Linked DNA regions of Homo sapiens. The protein of the gene in region 2 purifies or fractionates together with the protein of the main gene of each other region. This does not show direct contact. Each region holds a gene or a part of one and is shown on either strand. Other genes may lie near its edges.

Region 1 (3,654 bases), about 98 Mb from region 2:
ACTCCAGCCTGTGTGACACAGTGAGACCCTGTCTCAAAAAAAAAAAAAAAAAGTTTGAGAAAATCTGGAAAGTACAGAAAGGTATACAAGAGAGCAGATATCTCCATAATCATACCTTACAGACATAATCACAAGCAACAATTTGGTGTAATTTTGTCATCTTTTTAAAAAGCATGTACATTTAAGCTTCCATACATATAAATGAAACTAAGAAGATATTTACAATTTTTGTGTGTTGCTTCTTAACTTACATCATGAGTGTTTACCCACATTACAGTCTTCGAAAACATTATTTTTAATGATAATTTAAATAGTGTTCCACAAAAGTTCCTTGTAATTTTCAGATACTAAAGTCTGTTTTGTAGTCAGGCATACATGTTTCTAAAAAAAGTAATAATATTTCTCTTTTTTCTTCATTGCTAAACTAGGAATATAAAAGGTACATACTCATCCAGATGTGTGAGCTCAAAAATTTTAAAAAGACCAATTTTATATGAAGAATAGCTGTCAAATATCTTTTCACATTAAGTCAATAAAAGCTTAAAAATGAAATTTTTAATAAAATTATAAACAGCGTAAAGGAATGAAAACTTGGGAAGCATTCATACTTTACAGATATCAATCATTAACAAGTTAAGTGAAGATCTTTTCATAAAGAAACTACATTTAAAATCAAATGATTCCACAGAGACATGTATATCCATCTACACAGACAATTATTCAGGGCCAGGTGTGCTGGCTCACACCTATAATCCTAGCACTTTGGGAGGCCACCGTGAGAGGATCATTTGAGGCCAGGAGTTAGAGACCAGTATGGACAACATAGTGAGACCCTGTCTGTACCAAAAACAAAAACAAAAACAAAAATTAGCTGGGCATAGTGGTAGTCCTAGCTACTCAGGAGCCTGAGGTGAGAGGATCACCTGAGCCCAGGAGTTTGAGGCAGCAGTGAGCTATGATTGTGCCACTGCACTCCAGCCTGGGTGACAGAGCCAGACCTTGTCTCTTAAAAATAATCATAATTATTCACAAGTATTACCTTTGCATTTCTAAATTCACAAAGTTAATAACAAGGACAAATAGAGCATGACAACACTGACTTAAGGGTCATGTGTTCCAGATTACAGACATATAATGCATCAGAATGTTAGACAAGATTTACATCCAGTAACAACAAAAGAAACCCAGATGAAAATACTTCCTTTGTAATCTGTGGCTCTGTACCCTCCCCTCCCCACATCCTAATTAGAAAGATAACTTTTTATCCAAAGTTAACAATTAAAATGTATAGTTGTTCACATGCTATATACTAAGATGTGGCAACTCACTTATTTGTTGTAAGGTCAAAAGCTTCAACTGAAGCTGAAAGACCATCTTCAGTGACACCTCCTGCAATCACAATTTTGCCTTTATGGACTGCTACTCCAAACATGGAACGAGGAATTTTCATTGGAGCCAGATCTTTCCAATCTCCTTTTTTGGGGTTGAAGATAAACACCCTGTTTGTACATTTTCTGTAAACAGAAAAACAAATGTTCCTTTTAGAACCTTTTTTTGACAGCACCTTCACTAATAATTTGGCTTTGCTTGTCATGAAAAATATATAGTAGGATCAGAAAACTCCAAAGAATTCTTAATTTGAACATATGCCACTAAACAAAGGACAAGCCCAAATGTGGGGACCAAAACTATAACTTAATTTTACTGTTGGAAGATAGGGTACCTTTACTTCTGGATAGCTGCTTAGAACCCCAGGCACAGCTGATTTTAATCGTATCTACTAAATTCAATTGAAGTTTTTTTACTCTATTTGAGTAAAAAATAAAATCATAAACCTTTTATTGCACCTCAATAACAAATGGTAAGTTTATTTATTATCTGAATATCCTAGGAACGAATCAGTTAACTTAAAGAATAATTAGGTGCAAATATACCTACTTTAAATTTTATATGATAGATCATTTTATTTTATATTAGCACTAACATACCAGTGCATTTTAAGAAATCTGGGACTATGGATTAGACAACAAATCATCTGAGCTGATGAATCATGACAACAGTTTTACATGCTAAATGCTACCAGAAAGACCTGGACTCATCTGAATTATTATTCACTCTGCCACCCAGGCTGGAGTGCAGTGGTGCGATCTTGGCTCACCGCAACCTCCGCATCCAGGGCTCAAGTGATCCTCCCATCTCAACTTCCCAGGTAGCTGGGAACACAGGCATGTGCCATCACACCCAGCTAGTTTTTTGTATGCTTGGTAGAGACAGGGTTTCGCCATGTTGGCCAGGCTGGTCTCGAATTCCTGAGCTCAAGTGATCCTCCAGCCTCAGCCTCCCAAAGTGCTGGGATTACAGGTGTGAGCCACCATGCCCCGCCCTTAGTATGTTTTTTATGGTTCCTTGAAGTTATCTATAATTTGATGGGAGTTCAGAATTTCAAATAATAATTGATTAACTGGATATATTTGGTGATGAAAAACACCTTAACTTTTTTGTGAGGACAATTTTTTTCTTAATTGTGTAAAAGACCAGTTATCTGGAGTAGAAGCATTTCCTCTAATATTTGACTATTGGTATCATTTGAACACTTCTTGATAAGAACATTATCCAAAATCACGTTCTTCAAATTCATTAGTGGGAACTGGTGCAATTCAGCACTTACTTTTATTTATTTATTTATTTCTGGAGACGGAGTTTCGCTCTTGTTGCCCAGGCTGGAGTGCAGTGGCGCGATATCAGCTCACTGTCTCCCGGGTTCAAGTGATTCTCCTGCCTCAGCCTCCCTAGTAGCTGGGATTACAGGCAAACGGCACCACGCCCGGTTAATTTTGTATTTTTAGTAGAGACGGGGTTTCTCCACGTTGGACAGGCTGGTCTCAAATTCCCGACCTCAGGTGATCCACCTGCCTCGGTCTCCCAAAGTGCTGGGATTACAGGCATGAGCCACTGCACCCAGCCCAGCACTTACTTTTAGATAATGACTCATTTCAAAGTTCTTGACTTTGACATTTGTCAAGCAGTGTTGTGTTAGTTAATCATATTCTCAAGATTGATATATTCCTACTGACAAGAACTGTATGCTTCTTACTGACATATCAATTTCCTAGTTACTAATGCTGCTTGAAGGAAACAATTTAAATCATTTGGCAGGGTTCCTGTGTTTCCAAAGTCAGAATGCTCTTTAGTAGTGATTTTCCATTCAGTTTACTCAGGAAAAATGCCCAAAATAAGATCTGGCACCAGGTAAGCATATAATATACCTTCCTTTAAATTTGATAGGAATAGCTGGGATTAGGGAGGATATAAAAATTTTAGAATATGTTATCTTTGAATACAGGTAGATGTTTAAAAACCATTGCTTTTTAAAATCGCCTTTTCTGTGCTATATTTACCATTTAAATTGACTAATACCCAATAATCATTAACTCCAGAATAGAGTTCTTGACATCTAACACATTTCTATATTTTACTCTCCTTTCCTGCTTTGCCCTTACAATTCTAAATTTTGGCTCCCTTTTCAGGGTTGGACATCACTATTAATTCAATGGCCTGGGCAAATGATGACAAGCCAAATCAGGCAGATTTTTCAGGGGCAGAATATTAGTTCTCACCATCTAAACTGAAAATGCTTATTTTACTAGACAGGTT
Region 2 (3,654 bases):
GTGACAGAAATTCAAAGAATCAGCAGAAAACCCAAAGGCAGCAGCAAGTGAAAGGAGAAAAGATGGCCCTAGCGTGGGCTGAAGGAAGGCCTGTATTACCTCTTGGTACAGACACCCCCAAACAAAAAGCAGAGGTAGATGGTCATTCTGACACCTGCCCTGCCATGGTGTTCTCAGGCCTGGACACCCCAAGAACTGGGCAGCTGTCTCCCCTATCATCAGCAGAGCACTGCTCCTCTCCCCGTCAACCACCCTCCACCCCACCTTCCTAAATCCTAGCTGGAACCACAGAAGTGGCCAAAAAGGGAGGGAGCCAGGGTGAAATGCACTTCAAGAAGAGTAGTCTTTAAACTCAGAAGGCCTGGGGAAGATATTTACATTAGAACTGGGGAAGATATTTACATATAATTTTTACTTGCCAATTAAAGAAAAACAAACAGAACTGGAGAAGATACTAGAAACATCTATGACAAAAACGGTAACATTCTCAATACATAAAGAGCACTTGCAACTAATGAAGAAAAAGACAAACATGCTCCACCATGGGCAAATGAAAAAGTAATTCAGTAAGAATAAATACGAATAGGTGATAACAATGAAGTATCACAAATACTATTTGAACCTTAAGAAAGTGTTGGCTTGGCGCGGTGGCTCACGCCTGTAATCCCAGCACTTTGGGAGGCCAAGGCGGGTGGATCACGAAGTCAGGAGATCCAGACCATCCTGGCTAACATGGTGAAACCCCGTCTCTACTAAAAATACAAAAAATTAGCCTGGCGTGGTGGTGGACGCCTGTAGTCCCAGCTACTTGGGAGGCTGAGGCAGGAGAATGGCGTGAACCCGGGAGGCAGAGCTTGCAGTGAGCCGAGATCGCGCCACTCCACTCCAGCCTGGGCGACAGAATGAGACTCTGTCAAAAAGAAAAAAAAGAAAGAAAGTGTCAAAGATTTACAGGACAATGCTGTGTGTTAGCAGGATTATTAGAAAAATAAGCCCTCATACTTGGCTGACAGGAGGATAAAGTTGATACAGACTTCAAGAACAATTTGGGAAATGCAGCAACGCATTAAATCTGTCTATAACCTCTGACATAGCAATTCATCTTCTGGTATTTACCCAAAGGAAATAATTAAATATGTGGCCAAAGATGTAGTCACCAGAATATGCCTCACAGTGACTGTATAATTTAAGCACTGGATATAAATATAAACACTTATATAACCTAAATATTCATCAGTAGGGGGTTGAGTAAATTAATGATGGTGCATCCATATAAGAAAATATTACGCAGATATTTATAAAGGTGTTATAGAAGAATACTTACTGACATAAAAAATGACCCTGGATTTTTTTTTAATTAATTAATTGATGTTTTTGAGACTGAGTCTCATTCTGTCATCCAGGCTGGAGAGCAGTGGTGAGATCTCGGCTCACTGCAGCCTCCACCTCCTGGGTTCAAGCGATTCTTGTGCCTCTGCCCCTCAAGTAGCTGGGATTACAGGCACACACCACCATGCCTGGCTAATTTTTGTATTTTTCAGTAGAGACAGGGTTTCACCCTGTTGGCTGGCCTGGAACTCCTGGCCTCAAGCAATCCGCCCACCTCAGCCTCCCAAAGTGCTGGGATTACAGGCGTGAGCCACCACACCCGGCCCCCTGGTTTATTTTTCAGCAAATGTGCAAACATTTGGGAAAAAAAAAATCTATGATGGGATTACTTCTGGTGGAGAAATGGGGCTGGCCAGGTGCTATTTCTTGACCTGTTTGACCTGGGTGATATTACATAGTTATTCTCTTCACACACATATTTATTCTCAACCGTGGCATGATTACTATGTGGGCTGAATCACTCTGTGGTTGGTGTGGGGGACCTCCCCTTGCACTGTGGAATGTCTAGCAGCATCCTCAGCCTCTACCCTGTAGATAAACACCCTGTGCCCCCAACCCCTGTGGCAACAACCCAAAATGTCTCCAGACATTGGCAAATGTCATCTGAGGAAAAAACTGCCCCCAGTTGAGAACTACTGTATTAAATCATATATTTATATCTTCTGCACTTTCCTTGTATGTTAAATTTTATAACTAAAATTTTTAAGAAAAAAAATCTTGGAGGAAATGTGTCAAATTGTTAACAAGTTAATTCAAAGTGGCAGGATTTGGGGCTATTTTTTACTCTTGCCTCATGGCCTTTCTGTAGTTTGTCATTTTTAACAGCAAGTACATATTATGTTTATAAAAAGAAAACAGGCTAGGCGGGGTGGCTGACACCTGTAATCCAAGCACTTTGGGAGGCCAAGGTGGGTGGATTGACTGATGTCAGGAGTTTGAGACCAGCCTGGGCAACATGGTGAAACCCCATCTCTACTAAAAATAAAAATAAAAATTAGCCAGGCATGGTTGCAGGTGCCTGTAATCCCAGCTACTCGGGAGGCTGAGGCAGGAGAATCACTCGAACCTGGGAGGCGGCGGTTGCAATGAGCCGACAACGTGCCATTGCACTCCAGCCTGGGTAATAAGAGTGAAAGTCCATTTCAAAAAAAAAAAAGAAGGAAGGAATGAAGGAAGGAAGGAAGGAAGGAAGGAAGGAAGGAAGGAAGGAAGGAAAGAAGGAAGGAAGGAAAGAAGGAAGAGAAGAGAAAGCTCTTTTCTTTTTTTTTTTTTTTTTTTTGAGATGGAGTCTCACTCTGTCACCCAGGCTGGAGTGCAGTGGCTCAATCTTGGCTCACTGCAACCTCCGTCTCCTGGGTTCATGCCATTCTCCTGCCTCAGCCTCCCGAGTAGCTGGGACTACAGGCACCCACCACCACACCCGGCTAATTTTTTTTGTATTTTTAGTAGAGACAGGGTTTCACCATGTTAGCCAGGATTGTCTCGATCTCCTGACCTCATGATCCACCCGCCTTGGCCTCCCAAATTGCTGGGATTACAGGCGTGAGCCACCACGCCTGGCCGCTGTTTTCAATATTTTAAGTCATTTGTAATATGTAAACAGCTAGGTTCAGAGAGTCCGGGGCCTTCAGCCCACTTTCCCTACATAGGTGAGTTAAGAGTGTTCCCTGACGACAGGAATCCACCTCCAACTAGTTCTATAAGATCCCCCAACTCCTGCCCCAAATCTAGAGACCCCCAGGAGATCAAGAAGAGAAGAGGTGGGAGGGGGAGGCTGGAGGAGGAGACGCCCTGACAGGATGAGAGAGAGGGAAGTGTCAGTAATGACTTCTGGGTTCCTGGCTGATGACACAGGGCAGAAATTCACCAAGTGGGGACGCAGCAGATCTGGCCTTCAAGGAAATAAGATGTTTCAGCTTTAAAGCAGTAGGGATCTGGTTTTGTTCTTGTATGCATCCAAGCACCTAGAAAAGCACCAGGCACGTAGTAGGTACTCAGTAAATATTTGTTCAATGAACTAACTGCATGAATAGAGGGATATAAATAATCACATTAAGGAATGGAAAATGGGCAGGGCAGAAAAGAAGTACAGACAATTAAATGCTATAGGAAATTAAGCTGCTCGTTGACACAATCAGTCAAAAATATCTACTATGGCCCAGTTACTCATGGTAGTTTTAGTTAATGAATTAATTAATAGAAAAACAAAAGAATGAGAAGTATTCATTAGTAGCCTCTACTATTAATAGAGGTGCTTAGACAGGG
Region 3 (3,654 bases), on a different chromosome or scaffold from region 2:
TTCTCTCATAAGAGATAAGAATCTCACTACTGATCCCAGTTGTCAAAATGATAACTGAAATCTTAACTTGCTGTCACCTTTAGAAACTCAGCTAGGTAATGCCTATGTCCATTTCTAATGTTCAAATAGGCAGCTTCGAAGACAAAAAACTTATTTTTAAAATTTTTTTGAGACAGGGTCACACCCTGTTGCCCAGACTGGAGTGAAGTGGCACGGTCATGGTTCACTGCAGCCTTGACCTCCCGGGCTCAGGTGATCCTCCCACAGGCACATGCCACCATGCCCAGCTAATTTTTTGTATTTTTTGTAGAGACAGGGTTTCACCATGTTGCCCAGGCTGGTCTCAAACTCCTGGGCTCAAGCAATCCACCTGCCTCAGCCTCCCAAAGTGCTGGGATTACAGGCGTGAGCCACTGTGCCCGGCCTAAAATCTTAAGTCATCAAAATAAAAGTAGTCACAAAGGTTTGCCTGTGAAAGGTGCCAATTAAAAATGGCATTAAGAGCTTCCCTGGCTAGAACTACCAAACCAGACTGGGTGCCCAGCCAAAGGGAGGTTTAAATGAGGAGGAAGAATGGGGTGGGGGCAAGACATGGGAGATAACCAACCAACCAAAACTCAGCCTCAAGAGGCATGAGGGTACATGTAGGAGCAGGCATACTGGGGTGAGGTAGGAAGAGCCATGGTTGGGTCTCCAGCCCCAGCACTGCCTCTTATTCCACGTGAACCTCCAGGAAGTGCCTGGACCATGCAGGGCTTTGTATATAATCACCAGGTGAACTTGGAAACCACTAAGGTTCTAACTTCGACAGGTTCTACCTTGCAGACCAGTGGTTCTCAAAAGGAGGTTCTCAGACCTACAGGATCAACCAGGAAACTTGCTGGAAAGGTAAATTCTTGGGTCCCATCCCACATCTACTGAATCTGAACTCTGGTAGTAGGCCCAGAAATCTGTGTTTCAACAGCCTCTCCAAATGATTCTGACACATGCTCAAGTCTGAGAACCATCAACCTAGACCCACAGTTTTCAACCAGGGGTGATTTTGCTCCCCTCCTCTTCAAACTGGAATGAAAAGTTGCTTGCTTGCTTCTAGGAACCATATTAAAAAGGCATCTTTTTCCACCCTTAATTTACTATTGCTGAACCAAACAGACCTGGGCTCCTGGGAACTCTGATGCAACCTGGGCAATGTCGTGAAAAGTTTCCTTATCACTGAAGAAGCGCTCAGCAGCTGCTCCCTTCCCCATGAAGTGAATGAAGGCTTCTTCCAGATCATTCCTTGAATGCAGAATGCTGTGATCTTTCCCATTCCCAGGACTAAGGCCAAGTGCCTGCAAGAGCTTCACCCCTGAGAGCACCACATCAACACATGCATTGACTCTAGAAGGAGGAAAAAAACTGTGTGAAAGCAGCAGAAGCACCAAGTAGCCATTTTGCATTTAACAAAAGGAAAATGTTTCTCAGAACCTTATTCAACAGAAAAAACAGGAAGTAGGTCTGAAACCTGAATTGGGAAGTAAACAGCACATGGCAGGAGAAAAATTACTTTAACTGGATTTATGTATTAGCATCAGAACACAGGACTCTTCAATAATTTGGCAAACTTTTACACTAGTTACAAAGTGAGAAGATAGGTGCTTAGCATTTCAGAACAAAGCTACTGTAACAAAAATGTAACATTTCTGAGAAAAACGCTGGCAGAGCCAAACAGGATTCATGCTGGCCGTGTGACTTGGGCAAGTCACTAATTTCTCTGTGCCTCGGTTTCCTCATCCACAAAATGGCAATAATATGAGCATTTAACTCATAGAGCTATGGTTAAGATTAAATAAGTGAATGTATACTTAGGAACAGCAATTGGCGCAGAGTAAGCAAAATATGTGTTTCAGTCAAAGGCTAGGTATCAGGCATCTTCCCTCTAAAAACAAATGAGGATGGTAAGATACAATAAATTCCTAAATGCCTGAGTACTCCCAGCTGAAACCCTGCCTCTTAGAATTTAGTGGTGTTTTACAGACTTAGGCACACCTGCAGCATTTTAAGAACTCACCCTTTGGCCAGTGTTCACAGGACTGACCCATGAACGTTAAAGACCTGCCACTCCTGGTTGTCTCGATGGAAATTATAAAGTACAGGTTGAATCCCTTATCTGAAGTGCTTGAGATCAGAGTGTTTCCGATTTTGGAATATTTACATATACATGAGATATCTTGGGAATGCAACCCAAGTCCAAACACATTTCATATATACTTTATACATACAGCCTGAAGGTAACTTTATACAATGTTTTAAATACTTTTGTGCATGAAATAAAGTTTCTATTCCTTACGTGTGGGTGGAATTTTCACATATAAGTACTTAATATACATCAGTGGCATCATGTCAGTGCCCCAGAGTTTTGGATTTCAGAGCATTCTGGATGCTCAACTTGTACTAAGGTTGTCTGGCATGACCTCTCCTATGTGTGTATGGAGAAAGTCTGTCTTACATTTTCAGGGTTTCTTTGCTAAGTCATCCCTCTTTTAAAGAGAACGTTCAAATAATTAAGGTAGCTAGATGAGGTCTTCCCGCCCCTACCCCTATCATGGTCATCTTTATTCCTGCCTCTGCCTATTGGGATGTCATTCTGGCCAGTGAGGTTGGATTACCACACAGGCAGCTCCCAGCCGGCAAACTGAGACCACCCCTAGTGATACGGGTGACTGGGCTTCAGAGTTAATTCTGAGCAGCTCTGAAACCACAAGGTAAACTCATTAATAAAAATGTCCCAATGGATGAGATTTTGGTGTAAAATACATAGTTGTATTTCCCTTTTAGTCTCTTTCAAAAATGAAGAGGAATGAGACTGGGATGAAGAGGAATTTTACCAGGTATATTTCTACTTTTAACATGCTTGTATTCCTTTTAGAATTTTTAAAATGACATAACTTTAAAAAGGTTTGTATGCAGACTAGATATTATTTACATCACTTAAGGAAGATTTACAAGGGCAAGGAAGAGACATCCTCCCTCAAGACACAAAGAGACTGCATCCTCATTATAAGGGTCCTTTTTATTAATTCTTCCCCTAGGGATTCATGTTTTGAAAGGAGTTTTGCCTATCAAATAGCATTTAAATACTCAGTTTCTTGTTCAAGACACACATAATGACTCTGGTCAACTGGAGAAGCATAACCTAAGATTTACTATGCCTTTCAGTGCATAAAACATCTAGCTACTGTATTTGGCCCTTCTCTTTAAAAGAGGGATGATTTCTAGTAAAGAAACACTGAAAATATAAGCCAGAACTTCTCCATGACACACACAGAAGGGGCCATTCTGGACATGCACGTGGCAGTTGCTTAAAGATATGTTTAAAATCTTTCCTTTCACAACCTTCAATGTTAAGAAACCAAACACACCTTGCAAACTGGTCTCAATTTTACCTCAGACATGGTGCCCTTTATTTCTAATGAATGCAACATTAGATTGGTAGAATCAACAGGAATACAAGTATCTGTAGCTCTCAGACGCCAGTAGGTTCCTAAGTTTCAGACAGTGAGGGCTTGAGTAAGGAGGGATACCATTTCCTCCAGACAGCCCAGTCTAAAAAAATTGTATCCAAATGGATTTGGGTCCCGAGTCTGAAGAGTAAAGGTTCAGAAATGGAGGGAA

The links.
Region 1: the proteins of DYSF (region 2) and KLHL41 purify together in Homo sapiens (affinity purification with western blotting, with the first as the bait; one study listed by BioGRID). This does not show direct contact.
Region 3: the proteins of DYSF (region 2) and ADPGK purify together in Homo sapiens (affinity purification with western blotting, with the first as the bait; one study listed by BioGRID). This does not show direct contact.

Annotation. Positions count from the first base shown.
Region 1 is NC_000002.12:169,516,050-169,519,703, reverse strand, and holds part of KLHL41 (kelch-like protein 41), read right to left. Parts: intron 1,515-3,654; coding exon 1,329-1,514; intron 1-1,328. UniProt on the Homo sapiens protein: Involved in skeletal muscle development and differentiation. Regulates proliferation and differentiation of myoblasts and plays a role in myofibril assembly by promoting lateral fusion of adjacent thin fibrils into mature, wide myofibrils.
Region 2 is NC_000002.12:71,469,688-71,473,341, reverse strand, and holds part of DYSF (dysferlin), read right to left. Parts: intron 1-3,654. UniProt on the Homo sapiens protein: Key calcium ion sensor involved in the Ca(2+)-triggered synaptic vesicle-plasma membrane fusion.
Region 3 is NC_000015.10:72,773,718-72,777,371, forward strand, and holds part of ADPGK (ADP-dependent glucokinase isoform 4 precursor), read right to left. Parts: intron 1,381-3,654; coding exon 1,155-1,380; intron 1-1,154. UniProt on the Homo sapiens protein: Catalyzes the phosphorylation of D-glucose to D-glucose 6-phosphate using ADP as the phosphate donor. GDP and CDP can replace ADP, but with reduced efficiency.